2 linked regions of the Homo sapiens genome follow. The protein of the gene in region 2 purifies or fractionates together with the protein of the main gene of each other region. This does not show direct contact. Each region holds a gene or a part of one and is shown on either strand. Other genes may lie near its edges.

Evidence for each region. Proteins that work in one complex are often made in the same cells at the same time.
Region 1: the proteins of CFAP46 (region 2) and ALDH1A3 purify together in Homo sapiens (co-immunoprecipitation; 2 studies listed by BioGRID and IntAct, with this or other methods). This does not show direct contact.

What each region holds. Positions count from the first base shown.
Region 1 is NC_000015.10:100,882,811-100,889,835, reverse strand, and holds part of ALDH1A3 (retinaldehyde dehydrogenase 3), read right to left. Parts: intron 4,570-7,025; coding exon 4,465-4,569; intron 2,265-4,464; coding exon 2,124-2,264; intron 1-2,123. UniProt on the Homo sapiens protein: Catalyzes the NAD-dependent oxidation of aldehyde substrates, such as all-trans-retinal and all-trans-13,14-dihydroretinal, to their corresponding carboxylic acids, all-trans-retinoate and all-trans-13,14-dihydroretinoate, respectively.
Region 2 is NC_000010.11:132,932,557-132,939,581, forward strand, and holds part of CFAP46 (cilia- and flagella-associated protein 46), read right to left. Parts: intron 6,198-7,025; coding exon 6,033-6,197; intron 5,120-6,032; coding exon 4,996-5,119; intron 4,500-4,995; coding exon 4,405-4,499; intron 2,307-4,404; coding exon 2,196-2,306; intron 1-2,195. UniProt on the Homo sapiens protein: As part of the central apparatus of the cilium axoneme plays a role in cilium movement.

The sequences.
Region 1 (7,025 bases), on a different chromosome or scaffold from region 2:
AAGAGCTGGATCTTATTTCTCGTGGGCTGCGAGGTGCCAGTGGCAGAAGTGATTTGCTGGGTTTGCATTCTGAGATCCTCCAAAGCTGTCTGCTATCAAAACACAGTCGTGCCAGGACAATGGGGCAGCCTGAAGATGAAGGTGGCTTTGTAGCCTCTGCTCCTAAGATGATACTGACACTTAAGGACAGGGTTCAGGGCGGGGGGTGCCCAGGGCACATCCTCTCTAGCCTGCTATTAGTCCACACGGACATTGCCGACCGATGAGCTCATGCCGGGTGAAAACAGAAATGTTTTTGAAAAAGCCAGTTTGGCAGCTTGAGGGTTGACGCTGGCTTACGTTGCAGGAAGAAACCAGAGGCTCCTCAGAGAGAAGCGCTTACCCTGGGAGGGAGCTACTCTCACCCGGGGAACATGTGGACTGGCCGGGCTGACTGGGAAGGAAGGAAGGGGAGCTCGAGTTTCTGTGTGGATGCACCCTTAGGGAAATGCACCCAAGAGTACGGCCTGAGAGTTCCTCCACCCTGAGAAACACATTCAGGGGCAACAGCAATTTCCGTGTCCTGGCTGACACCCTCCTTTAAACAGTGGCTACCCTACTGCTTGTTCCCGACATCAGAAAAACCATTTTTCCAAATCAAAGGCCAGAAAGGAGATCTCCTCCCCTACAACCGGGCCTCAAGGTTTGGAACAACTTTTAAAAACAAGAGGCTGAGATGGGCAAGGACAGGATGCAAAGGACCTCATGGCCCAACGTGGCCCTGAGATGTCCTCTGATCACTCCCTCATGACCAGAGGAGGGTCTGAGGATCCTGCTAAAAAATGGACTTACAACTGATGAATGCCTTGGCAGCTCAGCCTCATGGGGTATGCTCCATCAATATCCCCACCTAGGGTATCTAGAAATTACTGGCCAGCAGTGCATGTAGGTGAGGTTAGAAAATGGGTCTTCACATGACCTCATTATGATAACTGCTATTATTAATGATAGCTGTCATCTATTTAGTGCTTACTGCCTGCCAGGGACTCTGCCTAGAATCTTAAATAGATCATTCTTACACCACTGAGTTATCATTATCGGTGACATTTTACATGAAGAAATAAATCTCAGAGAGGTTTCACAACTTGTCCAAAGTCACACAGCTAGTAAGTGGCAGAGTGGGGATTTGAACCCAGGTCTTTCCTATTCTGAGGTTTCCTATAACCAGGCTATCCTGCCCTCACCACCGCTCCACATATGCTCGCTACTAGCCAGTTCAGGGGTGACTGAGGAATGATTTTAGGTCACATGGGAACAATTTTTTCTATGTTAAGTGGTGGCATTTATTTTGGTAAGTATTAGAAAAATAAAATTAGCACATCAAACCTGTGATTTCATGAATATTGTTTCTTAGGATGAGATTAAACTTAAGTTTAAAAGGGAGTTAAGGCTGGGTGCAGTGGCTCACATCTGTAATCCCAGCACTTTGGGAGGCCAAGGCCGGTAGATCACCTGAGGCCAGGAGTTCGAGACCAGGAGTTCAAGACCTGGCCAACATGATGAAACCCTGTCTCTGTTACAAATATAAAAATTAGCCGGGCATGGTGGCAGGCACCTGTAGTCCCAGCTACTCAGGAGGCTGAGGCAAGAGAATCATTTTAACCTGGGAGGCAGAGGCTGCAGTGAGCCGAGATCGCGCCACTGCACTCCAGCCTGGGTGACAGAGGGAGACTCTGTCTCAAAAAAATAAATAAAATAAAATAAATAAAAGGAAGTTTATACAAAAAAGAAAAAAGTTAAGTACATAAACACACAGGTGGTACCAGGATATGGCCCAGCTCATGGTCACCAATCTGTGAGTGCCCCAAGTCTGAGACCACTGATGTAGCTCAACTGCCTATAGACAACAACTTGGTCAAGAAGCTGAGCTGCAGAGGACAAAAGTCTGACTTCAAAATGAAAGGGATTCAGTCTAGAGGCATTAACACCTGCAAGTATTGCCAGAGAGCCGTGTCTCAGAGGATGGAACAGACCCACGACCACACAAAACCAGGACCGTGATCTTTTTTCCCATACCCCATGGTGGACAGGACCCTCAGTGAGGCTGGCTCATCCCCCACCGGCCCCCAAGTGCATGTACTCACGGCCAAGGTGGCGCGGTCCCTCTCCACCAGGTCAGCCAGCTGGTGCAGCAGCCGCCCACGACTCAGGGCATCCAGCCGGCGCCATGGCGAGCCCCTCTGGAAGGCAACCTGTGCAGCCTCCACAGCCTTGTCCACGTCGGGCTGAGCGACCAGAACAACAGAGAGAGACTGTCATCTTTTGACGTGACTGCAGTTTGGGTGTCATCTTTTGACGTGACTGAAGTTTGGGTGTCATCTTTTGAGGTGACTGCAGTTTGGGTGTCATCTTTTGACGTGACTGCAGTTTGGGTGTCATCTTTTGAAGTGACTGCAGTTTCGGTGTCATCTTTTGAGGTGACTGCAGTTTGGGTGTCATCTTTTGAGGTGACTGCAGTTTGGGTGTCATCTTTTGACGTGACTGCAGTTTGGGTGTCATCTTTTGAGGTGACTGCAGTTTGGGTGTCATCTTTTGACGTGACTGCAGTTTGGGACCACGGCCATCAGTTATAGAGAACAGCAGATTGTCCCGCTGGCAGACAGGCTGCAAGCAGCAGCATGTTTTTCAATCACTTGAATGGCTGGGAGCGTTCAAGTGATTTTTTTTCTTCTTTACATCTTAATATTTCTACAGTGGCCAAATACCAATGTTTGTTTCTGATTATAAAAAGCATTTAAAAATATTTCCTAAAGAGTATTTTTCTCAGGGACCCAAGTACGGAAGGACTTTCCACTGGCTGCCTCAGTGTGAACGCACACGAGCCTGCTGTTCACAGATCAGGTGGGAAGTGTCTGCCTGGCATTTGATCCCAGCTGGGAACTTGTGGTCCAAGAGTGAGAATGGGGAAATTCCTTCCTTTCTGGATTGCAGAACTGACCATCGTGGAACAGTTCGCAGACAGGGAGGAGCATGAAGGCCGTTTTTCTCCCTTCAGCCTCACCCACCCCATGGGAGCAGAACTGGATCTTTTGTGCACTGATAGAATAATCACAACGGAACCTTCTTTCTAAAAGGAAAGAAGTGAGGGCCATTTAGAGTAGTGTCACTGTCTCTTTTTCTCAGGAAAATGGGCCACATTCATCTCGAAGGCCCCTCCATGCCTCTCTCTTTCTAGGAAGGTACAGCAGGGAGTGGATGTGGGACACCAGTCAGGAGTGACTCTACCGAGTCTCTGTGTGTCCAGAGCTGGCTTGGGGGTGAGCAGAAGCTTGGCAGGGGAGATGTGGGACACTGAATTTCTTCTCCCAGGCTCTGGGGTGGAGGCCAGGACCTTTCCAGCTGCAGAGGGTGTGGTGGCCTCTGGCTCAGAACAGTCACTCAGACCAAGGGAGAAATCAAGGCCCAGGGCAAGGGTCTCGTTCTCCTCCTAGCACCTGTACGGGGCACTTGGGAGTCTCCTAGTGGAAACCCCATTCCATGTCATGGCTTCCCCCCAATGCCCTCACATTTTTCTATGAGCTCCTCTGTGCCACTTTCTTTGTTAGCAGAGCCTAACTGTCATGAGGTGCCACACAGAGGGGGGTCTGTATAGGTGGGGCCAGTGTGCATTTGCACGTCTGTCACAAAAACTCATGGGCAAGATAAAATCCAAGCCTACTCTGCACACGCCCTTCACTGCATCCACTTCCAACGTCATCAGTTTGCTGACCAAGAACATCAGTCCAGCACTCCAGCAGCTAAGGAAACATTTACATCTCCCTGCCCTCAGTGGAAGGGCTTTACCTCTGCACTGACATTCAGAATAGATTTGATGGCCTTGCAATGTATAAAGGACACATTCGGAAGTCCCTTAGCTTCTGTATTACTATATAGACCTTGCACTTGCAAATAGAGTGATAAAGGTTACCGCTTTCCATGCTCATGTAAATTTCTAGGAGAAAAGAAATCTGGTGGTTACATTGTTAACTATCCCCGCATCACCCGGGTAGCAACTATTTTTTTTCCTTCAAAGTGTCTATTTTTTTCTAAAGTGTCTTCTGCCAGAAAGCTTCATTTCGTGAAACACACCAGCGGGAAATGCTTTCTGGAAAGATTCTTTAATGCCTCCAGGTCCAAATAATTGATAAAAAAAAAAAAAAAAGAAAAAAGAAAACCTTTCCTTTAGCCATATGATGAGGATAGCTGAGGTCATCCTCATAGTAGGAGAAACATCTATCAAGGGAGAATGATTCTCTGCAGAGGATCATCGGTAATTGATGCCATTCTGTGCCACACGTCTGAGAACCACATGCCAATTCACGCAGCTAGCCCAGGCCCTGCCCCCAGGATAGGCCAGTTCTGTCTTATAGCTAAGCCGAACCGTTTCCTTATCCTTTGGTCATCCATAATTGAATTACTTAGAGCAAATTTATTTTAAGTATTTACCTTATCTCCTTCTTCCACTTCACATATTTGCTCCCGAGTTGAAGGGTTACATGTAGCAAACTTTTTCCCACTCTTGGATTCGTGCCATTCATTGTTGATAAATATCTAACCAGGAAAGGAAGTGTAACCAATTAGGTTTAGATCAAAATCATATAATTTCAACATGCTAAGGACCTTAGGTGACGTCTTATCCATCTTGTCCACCTTCCTCTCTGCTGCTTCCCTCTCCCCTTCGACATCTTATAGATGAGACCCGGAGGGGAACAGAGTCCCAGGACTGCATGACCAACAGATCAACTAGGACAGACTCGAAATTCAAGTTTTGGTCAAATAAAACTATAGTCACTTAGAGATTTTTTTCTAAATTATTATTATTATCTTCAGCAATAACATGGATTCACAGAGGAATGGCTAAGTTAAATGGTTAAATAGAGGCTGTGAATGGAATCTCATACCCCAATAGACTTTGGGGGAAGAGTCAATAGGTTTATATACATAAAAGTCCCAAGCAGTCCGCCTGCCCCTGAAGGGTAAGGACGCACCGAGCACTCCCTTTCTCCTTTCAGTGGCAACACTCAGCAAGATTGATTGCCAAGGAGCTCACTTTGAGGAGGATCTCACCATCGCCCTTCAGTTTTCACCAATGCACATCAGCATGTCCCTCCCCAGCACATTCCCCTTAAAATGTGTATTTTCATAGCAAACCACCATGGCGCATGTTTACCTATGTCACAGACCTGCACATCCTGCACATGTACCCTAGAACTTAAAATAAAAGTTGATAAAATGTCAAAAAAAAAAAAAAACCCAGAAAAACCTCCGAAGCTTGATAATAAACCAGCGTTGAAGTACAAAGTTAAATGTCTGGGTTAGAAACTTTCCAGGTTACATTAAGAGATGTCGCAAATAACTGTTTATATAACCCGCAGAAATCACTTTTCTGGGAACCTCAATGATCCAGAATGCAGATGAGAATGAAAGTTTTTTTGACAAAAGACATCATGAGCAGACTAAGAAGAACATACGAAGTCCATGCACTGAAACATATGTACTATTTACTGTTAGTTTACACTAAGTTCTAATTGTCTTATTAATGTCATATTAAAAGAGAGGGCTTTTGGAAAAAACTAGGAAGAGACATGACAGACAATATACAAAACACATTCCGACAGCACGGAGGTCCCCGGCTGCCCAGCCAGAAGACACACAAACTCCTGCTACACCAACTTGGAATGGCTTCCTCATCACAGCCTATCACAGCATCAGAAGAACCCCCGTGGCAGAAATGGCTGACACGCATGTCTCTCAAGTAAAATGCCGTCAGTAATTTCTGAGTACAGAATTAGTTCATCAGGTTCCGTTTTTACATCTATCTGCATGTGGTATACATAGCTTTACTTTGCTTCTTTTTGAATTGTTTAAAGGAAGAATTGCGTCCCTCAAGGGCTAATTTCAATTATTGTGAAATTGATTCATTTGAAACATTTGACTCCCCAGTGATGACAGATGAGAGAGGGCAGCCATCTCCTAAGCATGAGTCTTGGTTACATTCTCTGTATTGGGCTTCCTGTATAAACTCCACAGCTCCGGCTTAATACCTGGGTGATGGGTTGATCCATGCAGCAAACCACCATGGCACATGTTTACCTATGTAACAAACCTGCACATCCTGCACATGTACCCCAGAACTTAAAAGTTGATAGAATGTTAAAAAAAAAAAAAACCCACAAAAACCTCTGAAGCTCATAGTGAGGAAGCCTGGTCTGAGTCGGTTGGGGACCAAGCACAGGAGGCAGACTCTGGCTGGGCAGGTGAGCAGAGACCAGCTGCCCCCCAGTTTGGAATCCAGAACTGAGAGCATCGGTCACCATTGGGATTTGCCTGTCTGGCTTCTGGAAGCTTAGCGTCTCCAATGTGAGGCCAGGCCCCCAGGGAAGCGCACCAGGAAAAGGCCAGGCTACAATTACAGGTTTATTCTTCCAGCTGAAACTAAATCCAAGAGTTCACTTTTGCCATCCAGCAAGTCATCACTTGGTAACAGCGAGAAATTAATAACTGAGGAAGAAGAGTTAAGTTAGTGCGGGGAGGAAAGTGCAGCCAGGAAGAGGGGCCCATTTGTAGAAAGATGAAATTTCGTGGGTTAGATAATAGAGACTGTCAGTGAAAATTGCTGATTCTAGGTCCTTCCTGGTATCAACTCCAAGGGGGAGGGAAAATGAGAAGGTGGCAGAAGAGAATATAAATAAGGGGGCTGAAAACAGATTACAATGATCGGATGTCTGCTATACTGCTATACTTCATCTCCAAGCATGCTCCTCCAAAAAAAATTACTGTTTGTTCATGACATTGATCTGTAACCAGCAACCTTAAAAAAAAATCAGACTGTTTGACTCTAACCATATTTTCCCATCACTATGTTTTTAATTTTGTAAAATCTTTTACTTTATACCACACTACAGTAGTAAGTAATCTTGTAAGTGGTTTCTACTGTTGATTTTTCTCTCCATTAAAACAAAACAAAAGCACAAATATAAGGAAAGGGTATATAAATATGGTCTACT
Region 2 (7,025 bases):
AGCCTGGGCCTTCTTCCTCCCCACATAGATCCTGCAGCTTCCTCCTCCCCACACAGAGCCTGGGCTTCCCCACGCTCCCCACACAGAGCCTGGGCCTTCCTACCATGCGACAAGCCCGTAGGCGTGCCGCCAACCGCACCTGCAGTCACCAATCAGGGTCTTTGCAGAAACTGACAGGCTGAGGCTAAAATTTGTATCCACATGCAAGGACCCACAGTGCTCCAGACAACTTCAAGAAAGAGCACAGCGGGTGCTCTCAGCTCTCCACTCTAAGGCTTCCTGTTGAGCTGCAGGGATCAGGATCACGCTCCTCCGGTGGAGATTAGGCCAGGGTTTCCCTCCGGGACGCCTCTCTTCCAGGAGGAGCCTGTCCATTGTGTCCCTGCAGCTGCCCGCTAGATGAAGAGCAGCCGCCCACAGTGTCTCCAGACATTGCCAAATGTCCTTGGGGAGCAGGTCTACATGTCTTCTGCTGTTTCCCGGGGAGTAATCACAGTCTTACCGGGAACACAATTGGCGGCTGCTGGCAGCGACTCAACTCGGCCCTCAGTGTGGTGTGACCATCCTCCCTGCATCCCTGGGTAGCTGTGGGCAGGAGGCTGCTTTGGGGTGGGGTGCGGACGCTTCTCCGCCCCTCGTCCCTGCCCACCTCCTCCTCCCCCTGCTCTGCTGTTGGGCCCTCTCAGGTCCTGGCAGGCCTGGCATCACAACACTGGCCTCTCCGTCCTACCTGAGCTCCAGCGCACAGGCCTGCTGGGCAGGTCGGGAAGAGAGAATCCGTAAAAGTGCCTGAGAATGCCGCCTGTGGACAGACCTCGGAACAGGGCTATTTACACTGGTCCCAAGACCTCTCGTCGGAGCGCCTGGCCACAGAAGGGGATGCTCGGCCAGGGCCACGGCCACGCTTGGCCGGACTTCAGTTAGAACAACCTGGAGGGTCTGATGGAAGACGTAAACTCCTTCCAGAACAATATATCCACACACATCCCCATGTACACATGCACTCATACCCCTCCCAAAAACAGACCCACCAGCAGGCTGGCCCTGTGCCCCTGCGGCCCAGGCTGTGGCCCAGCAGCCACCCTGCGGTCCTGGGGCCCCTCCCTCGAGGAGCCTGCAGCTGAGCAGCGGAGACCTCAATGTTGGGCAGGTGCCACCTCCCTGATGAGACCACGAACGTGCTGGCGTCTGGCGCCCCTCGCTAGCACTGATGAAGCAAGCTGTCCCACCAGGACCGAGGCCTGAACCCACAGGAACCGAGTCCTCTCAACACCCCTGTGAGCTTGGGGGACCCCTTCCCCAGTCCAGCCTCGAGAAAAGACCCCAGACCAGTCAACACTGTGGCTGCTGCTGTGCCCAGGTTCCCGTCCCACAGACACAGGGAGGTCATGGATCTGTGCCCAGGTTCCCATCCCGCAGACACAGCGAGGTCATGGACCTGTGCCCGGGTACCTGAACCGCAGACACGGTGAGGTCATGGACCTGTGTTGTTTCAAGCTCCTAAGTTTGTGGGTACTTGTTACGCAGCTGCAGATAACTAATACACCTTCTCTGTTAGTTTCCCATGGCCACCAGAAAACCAAACAGATAATTTCAGCCTCCCATATCAACAAGCTTTACTTGTTTCCCATTTTCTTAAAAATATACACAGTGCTACTAAGGAGGTGACAAAATCGCTCCAGGGGCAGGGGACAAACCCCCCCACCCACCCCGTGCCCACGAAGGCAAAACCAGCCAGTGCTTTCCATGTGCTTCTGAAAGCCTCGGGCTCAGCTTCCTGCTTCCAGGATACCAGCCCAGGACTTATCCCAAACTCTCAACAGTGCCTGGAGGATTCGAGAAAGCACAGAATCCAAACAAACCAGCCTGAAAAAGGCTCCAGAGAAACCTGTGTTTTCCCACCCATGGAACGCCACGCAGCCACCAGAACCGTGAGAGGTGCCACAGTGACCTAACCATCCATATGCCTACAAACTAAACTCATGTTAAAAAGTAGGGTATGAAAGTATTCGCAAGACAGTACAAATCTCAGGCCACAAAAGACCAGACAGGACCTTACTAAAACCTCCACAATGGCTGGCTTTTGCAAAGGTGGTTCTAGTTGCTTGTTTTACATTTTTTCACATTTTTCAGTGCCTGCTAAATTTTGTACAACGATTATGAAGATGTGATATTGGAAAAATACAAACACTTACTTTTCTTCACTGATAGAGGGAAAGCGCTGGTGGTTGTAATGACCTAAGTGTCTGTAGGCCTTCCTCAGAATGACACTGATGTCACCTGGTAAATCATTTTGCTCCGCTTTTCTAGAAATAATTCAGAGAGTAATTCAGCACAAGATCCTGTCAGATTTATTCAAATTCTTCTAAGAGAAACTCTGCGTGTATGAAATTGTGTTTCTCACTGAAGAGGAGACTGAAAATAACCCCTCCTGCCTTCTTTCCTCAAATTCCTGAGATGACTTTTCACCCCTTCTGGTCCTCCTTCCCTCCATGATGCCCGGCCTTCCTACAAGGCTGGAATAGAAACACTCAGAGGGCCCAGACCCCTCGCCAGAGTCAGCACCCCACATAGGAGCCAAACACGGGAAATGTGGGGCACTCTCTCTGCTCAACGGCGATAGGACCTGGGCCAGCATTGCTCTCTCCCAGGGATGCTGCCCATAGGACACAAATACCTCAGATCTCCTCACTCCCCTTGGTATCCAAACCCACTGTGATCTCCTCACTCCCCTGAGCACCCAAACACACTGCGATCTTCTCATTCCCCTCAGCACCCAAACCCACTGTGATCTCCTCACTCCCCTTGGCACCCAAACACACTGTGATCTCCTCACTCCCCTCAGCACCCAAACACACTGAGATCTTCTCATTCCCCTCAGCACCCAAACACACTGCGATCTCCTCACTCCCCTCAGCACCCAAACACACCGTGATCTCCTCACTCCCCTCAGCACCCAAACACACTGTGATCTCCTCACTCCCCTCGGCACCCAAACACACTGCGATCTTCTCATTCCCCTCAGCACCCAAACCCACTGTGATCTCCTCGCTCCCCTCGGCACCCAAACACACTGTGATCTCCTCACTCCCCTCAGCACCCAAACACACTGAGATCTCCTCACTCCCCTCACATCCAAACACACTGTGATCTCCTCACTCCCCTCGGCACCCAAACACACTGTGATCTCCTCACAGCCCTCAGCACCCAAACACACTGTGATCTCCTCACTCCCCTCACATCCAAACACACTGTGATCTCCTCACTCCCCTCGGCACCCAAACACACTGTGATCTCCTCACAGCCCTCAGCACCCAAACCCACCGTGATCTCCTCACTCCCCTCATCATCCAAACACACTGTGATCTCCTCACTCCCCTCGGCACCCAAACACACTGCGATCTCCTCACTCCCCTCACATCCAAACACACTGTGATCTCCTCACTCCCCTCGGCACCCAAACACACTGTGATCTCCTCACTCCCCTCACATCCAAACACACTGTGATCTCCTCACTCCCCTCGGCATCCAAACACACTGTGATCTCCTCACTCCCCTCGGCACCCAAACACACTGTGATATCCTCACTCCCCCCGGCCCCCAAATACACTGTGATCTCCTCACTCCCCTCAGCCCCCAAACACACTGTGATCTCCTCACTCCCCTCGGCACCCAAACCCACTGCGATCTCCTCACTCCCCTCACATCCAAACACACTGTGATCTCCTCACTCCCCTCGGCACCCAAACACACTGCGATCTCCTCACTCCCCTCACATCCAAACACACTGTGATCTCCTCACTCCCCTCGGCACCCAAACACACTGTGATCTCCTCACTCCCCTCACATCCAAACACACTGTGATCTCCTCACTCCCCTCGGCATCCAAACACACTGTGATCTCCTCACTCCCCTCGGCACCCAAACACACTGTGATCTCCTCACTCCCCTCGGCCCCCAAATACACTGTGATCTCCTCACTCCCCTCAGCCCCCAAATACACTGTGATCTCCTCACTCCCCTCTGCCCCCAAATACACTGTGATCTCCTCACTCCCCTTGGCATCCAAACACACCATGATCTCCTCACTCCCCTCGGCATCCAAACACACCATGATCTCCTCCTACAGGCTCTTTCTGCACTTGGCTTAAAGCCGCCCTCTCCCTTCTGTGGCCTCACTGGCCTCTCCTCTGTGCTGGGAGGGAGGCAGGGCCAGGAATTGGGGTGGCCTTCGGATCCCCACACCCTGAGGTCTCCCAGGCTCCTATTCTCCAGCCCCACTCACTGCAACTCCAGACTCACAGGCCCCTGGACACAGGACCTCCCCCCATGGAGGGGACAGAGCTCTCCCAAGCCCAGCACTTGTGAAACTCAGTATTTGCTCTCCCTCCCAAAACGACTTACGCCTTTAGCATATTAATATAGAAAGTGACTGACAGGCTAATGGAATTTTTCTTTTCTTCCTTTAACTGAAGTTCGTCCATTAATTCATGACGAACCTGTCATAAAATGGAGCAGATTATTAATCTGGATTCAAACAATTCGGTAGAGGTTCAGATTTTGTGTCTAGATTTTATTTTCTCATTAATTTTGTATCTAGCTTTTCAGATACAACTTAAGCTGATTCCCCATATGTCAAAATGGACTGCTGATGAATGAATGCTTTTGGTACATATTCTTGTAGTAATTACTTGTATCTTTGTGAATTTTCTATTAACTTTAAAAAAATTCAAAGCTATTACAAAGGAAATATTTAAAGAGCGACGATAAAGGCAAAAGACCCTGTTTTGTTTTCTAAATGTCACAGTTCTATACATCTTTGCATTGGATGAACTGCTATTTCTTTTTAATATGCTTATGTAATTTTGTTCATGTATGTATGCATATAGATTTTTATATCTCTCAGCAAACTTATGTAATTTCTACGCAGTTTTCTGAACAATGACTTTTAAGAAAATTACTTCTTACGTCTCTATTTCTAATACGCTGATTTACCATAACAGAGAATATCTGCCGGTATTTCTGTGGCACGTGAGACTTAATGAACGGAGCTGCCGTGGAGCAGAACCTGGCAGCCTCCTCCTTTCTTCCGGCTTGCAGATAACACTCCAGAAGTTCCCTGGATAATAGAAACACACCACTGGTCAACCTGGTTGAAACTGTTTTCTCCTATCTAATAACCAGGTTATTAAACCATTACATATTTTGTGTTTCACAAAGTTTAAAAGCTACCCTGGGGTCAGCTTCTTCAGCCAGAACCAGGCTGTGTGGCTCACCAGGAAGGGCCAGCAGGTGCCAGACAGCTCGTTACCGCTAGCACCGGGGCATTTTGAAATGAAAGATCTGTATTGATATTCTTCAAAGGTTCCCCAAACGGCCATATGGCAAGTAACCAACACCTGCAGGCTGTGGGCTTGGTGCCGAGGGGAGCTGCTCTGGAGTTGGCACAGCTGGAATCCTCAATGGGGACATCCACCCGTCCCCAGCCTGCACAGAGAGTGCCGCAGACACAGAGAGGCTCGGACCCGTTTCCTTTCCGCCGCCCGGCACAGTGACCGAAGCATTGGTGACAGCCTGTGCGGTGACCCCTCAGGGCTGAGACCCAGCAAGGCCGGCCTGCCCTGTGCTGCCCCAACTTCCTCGCAGGGCTGCCTGGGCTCCGCATGTGCTGACTCTGCTTAGTTTTACGCTGTTAAAACGTCTACTGCGTTACCATTTTAAGAACTAAGATTGTAAAACCGTGAGCCAGGCTGCGTGGGGCAGGATCATATCTGCTTTGCTGGGAGTCTAAACACAGTATCTTGTTCTGTTGTCATAACCTCATAACCAGGGCACGGCAAATGTCATCTACAGATTTTGGAAACGACCTTCGGACAAGACACACAGAAACTTGTGACTGTGGGAGAGAACGCACATGGAGTGTGCCCCAGTGATGTGGAACTCCCGTCCCCCCCCCGGAGAAGGGGTGGTGGCCTCAGAGCCAGAGGGCGGCCCACCGGGAGGCCACAGAGGGCACGGCGAGCTCAACTCACAGCATCAGCTCAGCACGCCACTCCTTGTCTTCCTCCTCAGTCTGACTCAGCACGTTTATGATTTGGGAAAGGCTGGGGATCAGATGGTGACGATATCCAGGCTTGAGGAACGGCCTCACCATCTGCCAGTAGAGGACTGATGCATTGTACACCAAAAAGTAGTACCTGCGGCGCGAGCAGAGGAAGCAGAGAGCACGCTCAAAGCCCAGCCGGCCCAAGCTGCAGAACCAAGGGGCCGCTGTGTCTCCGGAGCCCCTCCCAGGAGGGGCCTCAGGTCCTCTCCAGCAGATGGCAGCAGCCCCACCTGAGAAGCTTTGGCCCAGCCTGCAGGAGCACCAGGATGCAGAGCCCTTCCCTGGGACAGCCTTGGGCGACCCTGCGTCCGACGTGCCATGGCTCCAGCGCAGGCCCGGCTGTGATGACCCGGCCACAGGCTCCCGAGTCCAGACCAGGGCCTTCTTCATCAATTATTCCACAAACTGATCGGCCCCCTCCCATGAAAATACACCACTGGGCAAGGCCTCCTCTGACTCTCAAGGGATAGACAAGAATGGGCAAGGACAGAGGGAATCAAGGAAGGCTTCCTGGAGGAGGTTACATGCCTGCTGTGACCTGAAAGATGTCAGGAGGCAGCCAAGACAGTAGTAGAGGAAAAGAAGGTCAGGAAGATGGAGGAGAAGGGAGGAACCTTTGGGAAACAAAGTTCCCGTCTGCCAGCATAGAGTGTGAAGTGGAGGAGGGTGGGCTGGAAGAGTGAGCAGAGACCCCTCTCAGGGGTCTGGGCCTCTCCCTGGGCAGCAGGGAGCATTGCAGGGACTGAAGTAAGGGAATCCGGGCCCATCTGCCCTTCTCACTCTAGGGCCACTCCACAGTGGGGCAGGCCAGCTCTGCCATGTAGGGCCTGTGTGCCTTGTGGTCCTGGGCCGGCCACCAGGTGGACCAGCACTGCTCAATGCCCAGGTGGGAGGAGGACACCAGGGTGGCTGTGGCAAG